Linked DNA regions of Homo sapiens: region 2 is linked to region 1. The links come from fine-mapping of genetic effects on gene expression. A gene starts in region 1. The other region holds a variant in brackets. All regions are shown on one strand. Distances are from middle to middle. Region 1 holds the start of SCT (secretin). Region 2 overlaps PHRF1 (PHD and ring finger domains 1).

The links. PIP is the estimated chance that this variant, and not a neighbour inherited with it, causes the effect.
Region 2: its variant is fine-mapped to the expression of SCT in putamen (GTEx, PIP above 0.99).

Annotation. Positions count from the first base shown.
Region 1 is chr11:626,117-628,865 of GRCh38, forward strand. SCT (secretin) reads right to left here and starts at 1,065. Exons shown (of 4, transcript NM_021920.4): 1 at 957-1,065; 2 at 772-873; 3 at 581-673; 4 at 193-414. The coding sequence starts at 1,027. The coding sequence ends at 315. RefSeq lists an enhancer at 599-1,099 and a silencer at 693-987.
Region 2 is chr11:604,535-607,532 of GRCh38, forward strand. It overlaps PHRF1 (PHD and ring finger domains 1), which reads left to right. Exons shown (of 18, transcript NM_001286581.2): 11 at 585-766; 12 at 1,071-1,190; 13 at 1,908-2,062; 14 at 2,532-2,998. Among named protein-coding and RNA genes, the nearest start is that of IRF7, 9.9 kb to the right of the region's middle. RefSeq lists an enhancer at 125-743. The variant C/G (reference allele first, on the strand shown) is at 1,726.

The DNA of each region.
Region 1 (2,749 bases):
CAGTACTTAGTCGAGGTACAGGAGGTGGCCCTGATGCCAGAGATAAGGATGAGGGGCCGCCGTGCCTGCAGGTGTAAAGGGCAGCTGGGTGTGGTCAGTCCCTCCTGGGTGGATGGGCCTCCATCCATCCCTCAGCCCCGCTACACAGGGGTTGCCTCGATTACACTGAGTGGACACAGACAACTCCCAGCGTCTGGGTCTGATTCCTCCTTTATTGGTGCCAAGTACCACCCCTCCCCCTCTCCCCCATCCTGCCCCCCACCCCAAATGCAGCTGCGCTCCTGGGCCGGGCAGGTGGTGAGGGGGTTCCTTCCTCATCTGGGCCGCAAGGTTCCTTCTGCAGCAGCGCCAGCTGGTTCTGAAACCATAGGCCCAGGGGGCAGCCAGGGAGACCAGGTCCCGTCCAGGGGCATCCTGCAGAGACAGCACGTGAGGGTCTGAGGGCTGGGGCTGGAGACCCCGGCCCCGCTGCTGGAATTGGGCCTCCAGTGGCCACCAGCGCTGACCCGGGGAGGCCAGGACAGAAGGAGGGGTCTGGGGTGGGGTCTGGAGTGGGGTCTGCGGTGGGGCGGGTGCTCACCAGGCCTGCAGGATGGGCATGTTGGACCCTGACGGGCAGAGCAGACCCGCGCTGAGCCTGGTCCAGGCCATGCTGTTCTCTGCGTCCTGCTCGCTGCCCCCCGCCCCAAAACAGAGTTAGTCCTGGAGCTGGGGGGTCGCGCGTTGCTGCTGGGGCACCACGCCAGGACCCCCCACCCCACCCGGCCTCACCTGCGCTTCCCCACCAGGCCCTGTAGCAGCCGCTGGAGCCGCGCGCCCTCCCGCAGGCGGCTGAGCTCGCTGGTGAACGTCCCGTCTGAGTGTCGCCGGGCCCTGCGGGCGGTCGGGGGTCGGGGTCAGGGCGCACTGGGGGCGGGTGGGGCCCGGGGGGCGGGCGGGCCTGGCGGGCGGCTCACCTGGGGGGCGCGGGGCGCGCGGCGGAGCCCCCGAGGAGCAGCAGCAGCAGCAGGAGGGGCCGGGGGGCCATGGCGGGGTCGGGGCGCAGGAGCTGAGCGCTGCGGCCACGGCCCCGGGCCCCCGCAAGGCCCCTTTATGGCGGCGCCCGGAAAGGGGACGGCCCGGCCGCGCCCAGCGATCCCGGGAAGGTCAGGGCCGCCCCCCCAGCTGTCGCCCCGGCCCGGCCTCCCGCCCCCTCCGCCGCGCTGGCGCCCCTCGGCCGGCTGGGGGAGGGGGACGTCCCGGCCTGGGGGGCGAACGGAGCGCGGGCCTGGGACCCGCAGAGGGAACCGCACCGCGAAGCCTCGGAGCCTGCGGGGGCGGAGGGGCCGGAGGGCTTGGGGGAGGGTTTGGGGGGGGACTGGGGGGCCCCGGGGAAGGGGCTGCGGCCGGAGTTCCGGAGGCCCCTGGAGCACCTTGCTGGGGCGAGTTCGTCTCCAGCTTCAGCGTGGCGTGACTGTTGGGGGGCCGGTGTTGCCATTTTATCTGCTTTGAAGTGCGCGATTCAGGATCATTCGGTGCATCCATCCCCACCATCCGTTCTCAGACTTTCCCGTCCTCCCAAAATCCGTTCACAGACGCTCCCGTCCTCCCAAAATCCGTTCACAGACGCTCCCGTCCTCCCAAAATCCGTTCACAGACGCTCCCGTCCTCCCAAAATCGTTCACAGACGCTCCCGTCCTCCCAAAATCGTTCACAGACGCTCCCGTCCTCCCAAAATCGTTCACAGACGCTCCCGTCCTCCCAAAATCCGTTCTCAGACTCTTCCGTCCTCCAAAAATCCATTCTCAGACTCTTCCGTCCTCCCAAAATCCGTTCTCAGACTCTCCCGTCCTCTCAAAATCTGTTCACAGACGCTCCCGTCCTCCCAAAATCCGTTCACAGACGCTCCCGTCCTCCCAAAATCCGTTCACAGACGCTCCCGTCCTCCCAAAATCCGTTCTCAGACTCTCCTGTCCTCCCAGAATGAAGCTCTGTCCCCATCAAACGCCCCCTCCCCTCCTCAGCCCCGGCGCCCCGTCCACTTTCTGTCTGTGGATTCAGCGCTTCCAGGGACTGCGCGCAGGGGGAGCCTCACGGGATTTGTCCTTTGGAGACCGGCTGGATTCTCAGCGCAGCATCCTCCGCCTTCGCCGCCGCGGCCTGGCCTGTGTGGGAATCTCCTTCCCTTTTGTGGGGAACTGTGTCCCGCTGTGTGCAGGGACCGCATCGACCGCGTCCGCTCATCTGTGGGCATCTTGATGGACACCTGGGCTGCCTCCCCTTTGGGGCGACGGCGAGTAACGCTGCTGTGAACGTGGGTGTGCAAACGGCGCTTCCCGATCCCGTTTTCAAGCGTTCTTGGTGTATAGTTATGAGGGAATTGCTGGGTGACAGAGTAATTATGTGTTAAATATTCTGAGGAAACGCCAAACTGTCTTCCCAGCAGCGCAGCAGGGACACGGTTCTTGTCCTCGCCAACACTTGCTACTTTGTGGCTTTTTGTTTGTCGCGTACTAACGATGCCGGTGGGTGCGACGTGGTGTCTCGCTGCGGTTTTGATTGGCATCTCCCTAATGGCCAGCGATGTGGAGCATGTTCTCAAGTGTCTGTGAGCCATTTATACATCATGGAGTGGACGGAGAAATGGCCGTCAAGCCCTTTGATGTTCTGCTGTGGTTGCGAGTCATGCACTGTATCCGTCTGTTAAATCAGCCACAATATTTTCCCCAGCGTTTGCATCATTTCACAGCCCCGCCAGCAATGTGGGGCT
Region 2 (2,998 bases), 21 kb before region 1:
ACAGAGTCTCGCTCTGTCCCCCAGGCTGGAGTTACAGTGGTGCAATCTTGGTTCACTGCAACCTCTGCCTCCCGGGTTCAAGCAGTTCTCTTGCCTCAGCCTCCTGAGTAGCTGGGATTACAGGCGTCCGCCACCAGGCCCAGCTAATTTTTGTATTTTTAGTAGAGATGGGGTTTCACCATGTTGGCCAGGCTGGTCTCAAGCTGGCCTCAAATGATCTGTCTGCCTTGGGCTCCCAGAATGCTGGGATTACAGATGTGAGCCATCAAGGGGTTTTACTGTCAGTCATCAGTTGAATTTTTTGTTTCCCTCTTTGTGAGTTTTCACTTAATGCTACTACGACGTGATGGTGACACTGCAATGCCCGAGAGCCTCTGGTAGCCTGCAGGAGCTTCACGGCCGATGTGTGCGGCATTGTTCCTGCTTGTCGGTCATCATGCCTGAGAAGCCCATTGACTTTGGCTTAGTATTTTCCGGCTCTAGTGTTCACTGTTGCTGATGAAGGCTTCACGTGGCATTTACAGAGCCCTCGTAGATGCCATCCCCGTCTCTCTGTTCATCTTTTTCTTTGTTACTGGATTCAGAGTGAAGCCACCACTCGCTCTCGAATCGCGCGGACGCTGGGCCTGCGCAGGCCTGTTCACAGCAGCTGCATCCCGTCAGTGTTGAAGCCAGTGGAGCCCTCTTTGGGGCTGCTGAGAGCGGATATTGGAGCTGCCTCTCTGTCTCTGTTTGGAGATCCTTATGAGCTGGATCCCTTCGACAGGTGAGTGAACTGGTGATGGTCCTGCCTGGGCACCCGCTCCTCTCCCTGGGGGCTGTGGGCACGGGGCCCCGAGGTGCATGCGGAGGCGTTAGGTTTTGTGTTTGAGAGTGAGGGTGGCCATTCCTCCCACCGCCATACGGTGCAGGTGGGTGGCGTGGAACTCAGAGGTCTGGTTCGGGGCCCGAATCACACGTGCCGCCACATGGCCAGTGCTCGGCCATCCTCCTCCGTGCCGTCTCCCTGGGCTGGGGTTTCTGGGAGCTGGGAGTCACTTGTTCCCTTTGGCCTGTGTCCTCCCCTCTAGCAGTGAAGAGCTTTCTGCAAACCCTCTTTCCCCTCTGAGTGCCAAGAGACGGGCTCTGTCCCGGTCAGCCCTGCAGTCCCACCAGCCCGTGGCCAGGCCCGTCTCCGTGGGGCTTTCCAGGTGTGTGAGGGCAGAGGCTTCTGGGGAGGTGGGGGCAGCAGTTGGGCATCGGATGGGAGTTCTAGGGTGGGGCCGTGATAGCCTGGCTCTCTGTGGCCCTGGGTGGCGTCAGCACCTCCCCTCAGCTGTCATGCTCATCAGTCGGCCCTTGGCGTGAGGCAGTGCTGCAGCCCATCCTGTGTCAGAGGCCACGGCCTGCCTGTGAGCGTGGACTGGGAGTTGCTGCAGCTCCACGAGGTGGCCCCTCTGCCCCCCACCCCGGCCTGAGAGCCACCAGCACAGGGACACCGCCTCGGGCAGGAGCAGTGGCCCTGGTGAATAAGGCTGTCATCAGAGGTCACCTTTTGGCCAGTTCTTTTGTTTCGCCACAAGAACAAAAAATTAACCAAAACCAACAAAACAGGTAAAGGTGCTTGTCTGCCCCCTCCCACCTGTTGGTGGAGTTGGGGGTGGCAAAGGCACCAGAGGTGACTTCTCCCAAAAACGCCTGGTTTCCCTGGGGCCAGAGCTGCGAGGTGGGGCTCCCTCCCTCCCT[C/G]CCTCTGGGAGGCCCCGGTGAGCACCTCTTAGAACAGCAGCCGGAGCCAGGGCTGTGGGGGAGGCGCAGGCCCGGCCCAGCCCCACTCTCCCTGGCTCCCGCCTGCTGCGGGGCTCTGCCTGGGTGCGGGCCCTCAGGCCGTGGGAGGCAGTGACGGCAGGGCCTTGGGTCTGTGCCCACAGGAGGCGCCTCCCTGCCGCGGTGCCAGAGCCAGACTTGGAGGAGGAGCCAGTGCCTGACCTGCTGGGCAGCATCCTGTCGGGCCAGAGCCTCCTGATGCTGGGCAGCAGTGATGTCATCATCCACCGCGACGGCTCCCTCAGCGCCAAGAGGGCGGGTGAGTGCCTTCCCTGCCACGGCCCCTTCCTCTGTGGGCTGCTGGTCCTCAGGCTGTTCGCAAGCACTCAGCCCATGTCTCAGTCACGGAAGATGTAGCTGAAGTTGGGGGGACCATTCCTCAGCCATTTTTCTGCATTGATTTCCCTTCTTGAGCAGTTTCTCAGTTAGCTCCGAGTTCTTACCCAGCCCCACAGCTTCATGTTCATAAGAACATGTCCTGATGGGGTACTGCCCCCGCCCCTGGTTAATATCGTGTCCTGATGGCCTCAGGCACTGTACTTTGTCATCCACAGAGTGGCTGTTGAAGCAGCTCTCCGGGTGTGGAAAGGCGAGGTGTCCACCTCAACAGGCAGACAGGAGTTTAAAGCGCACGACCTCACAGAAAACCAGTTGTGATAAAAATTAAACCACTGACATTTAAGAAGAGTGGGTGGGAAATGATTGCCATTGACTTTTTTGTTTTTTAGCTCCAGTTTCTTTTCAGCGAAACTCAGGCAGTCTGTCCAGAGGGGAAGAAGGATTCAAGGGCTGCCTGCAGCCCCGAGCACTGCCCTCCGGGAGCCCGGCCCAAGGCCCGTCAGGAAACAGGCCACAGAGCACAGGGCTCAGCTGTCAAGGCAGGTCCCGCACCCCCGCCCGCACCGCGGGGGCGCCTGTGAGGCTGGACTTGCCAGCAGCCCCTGGGGCGGTTCAGGCTCGGAACTTGTCAAATGGGAGTGTGCCTGGCTTCAGACAGAGCCACAGCCCCTGGTTCAACGGCACCAACAAGCACACCTTGCCCCTTGCCTCTGCCGCGTCTAAGATCTCAAGCAGAGATTCTAAGCCCCCATGTCGCAGTGTGGTGCCGGGGCCTCCCCTGAAGCCAGCGCCCAGAAGAACAGACATCTCTGAGCTACCCAGGATACCAAAGATCAGGAGAGATGACGGTGGTGGC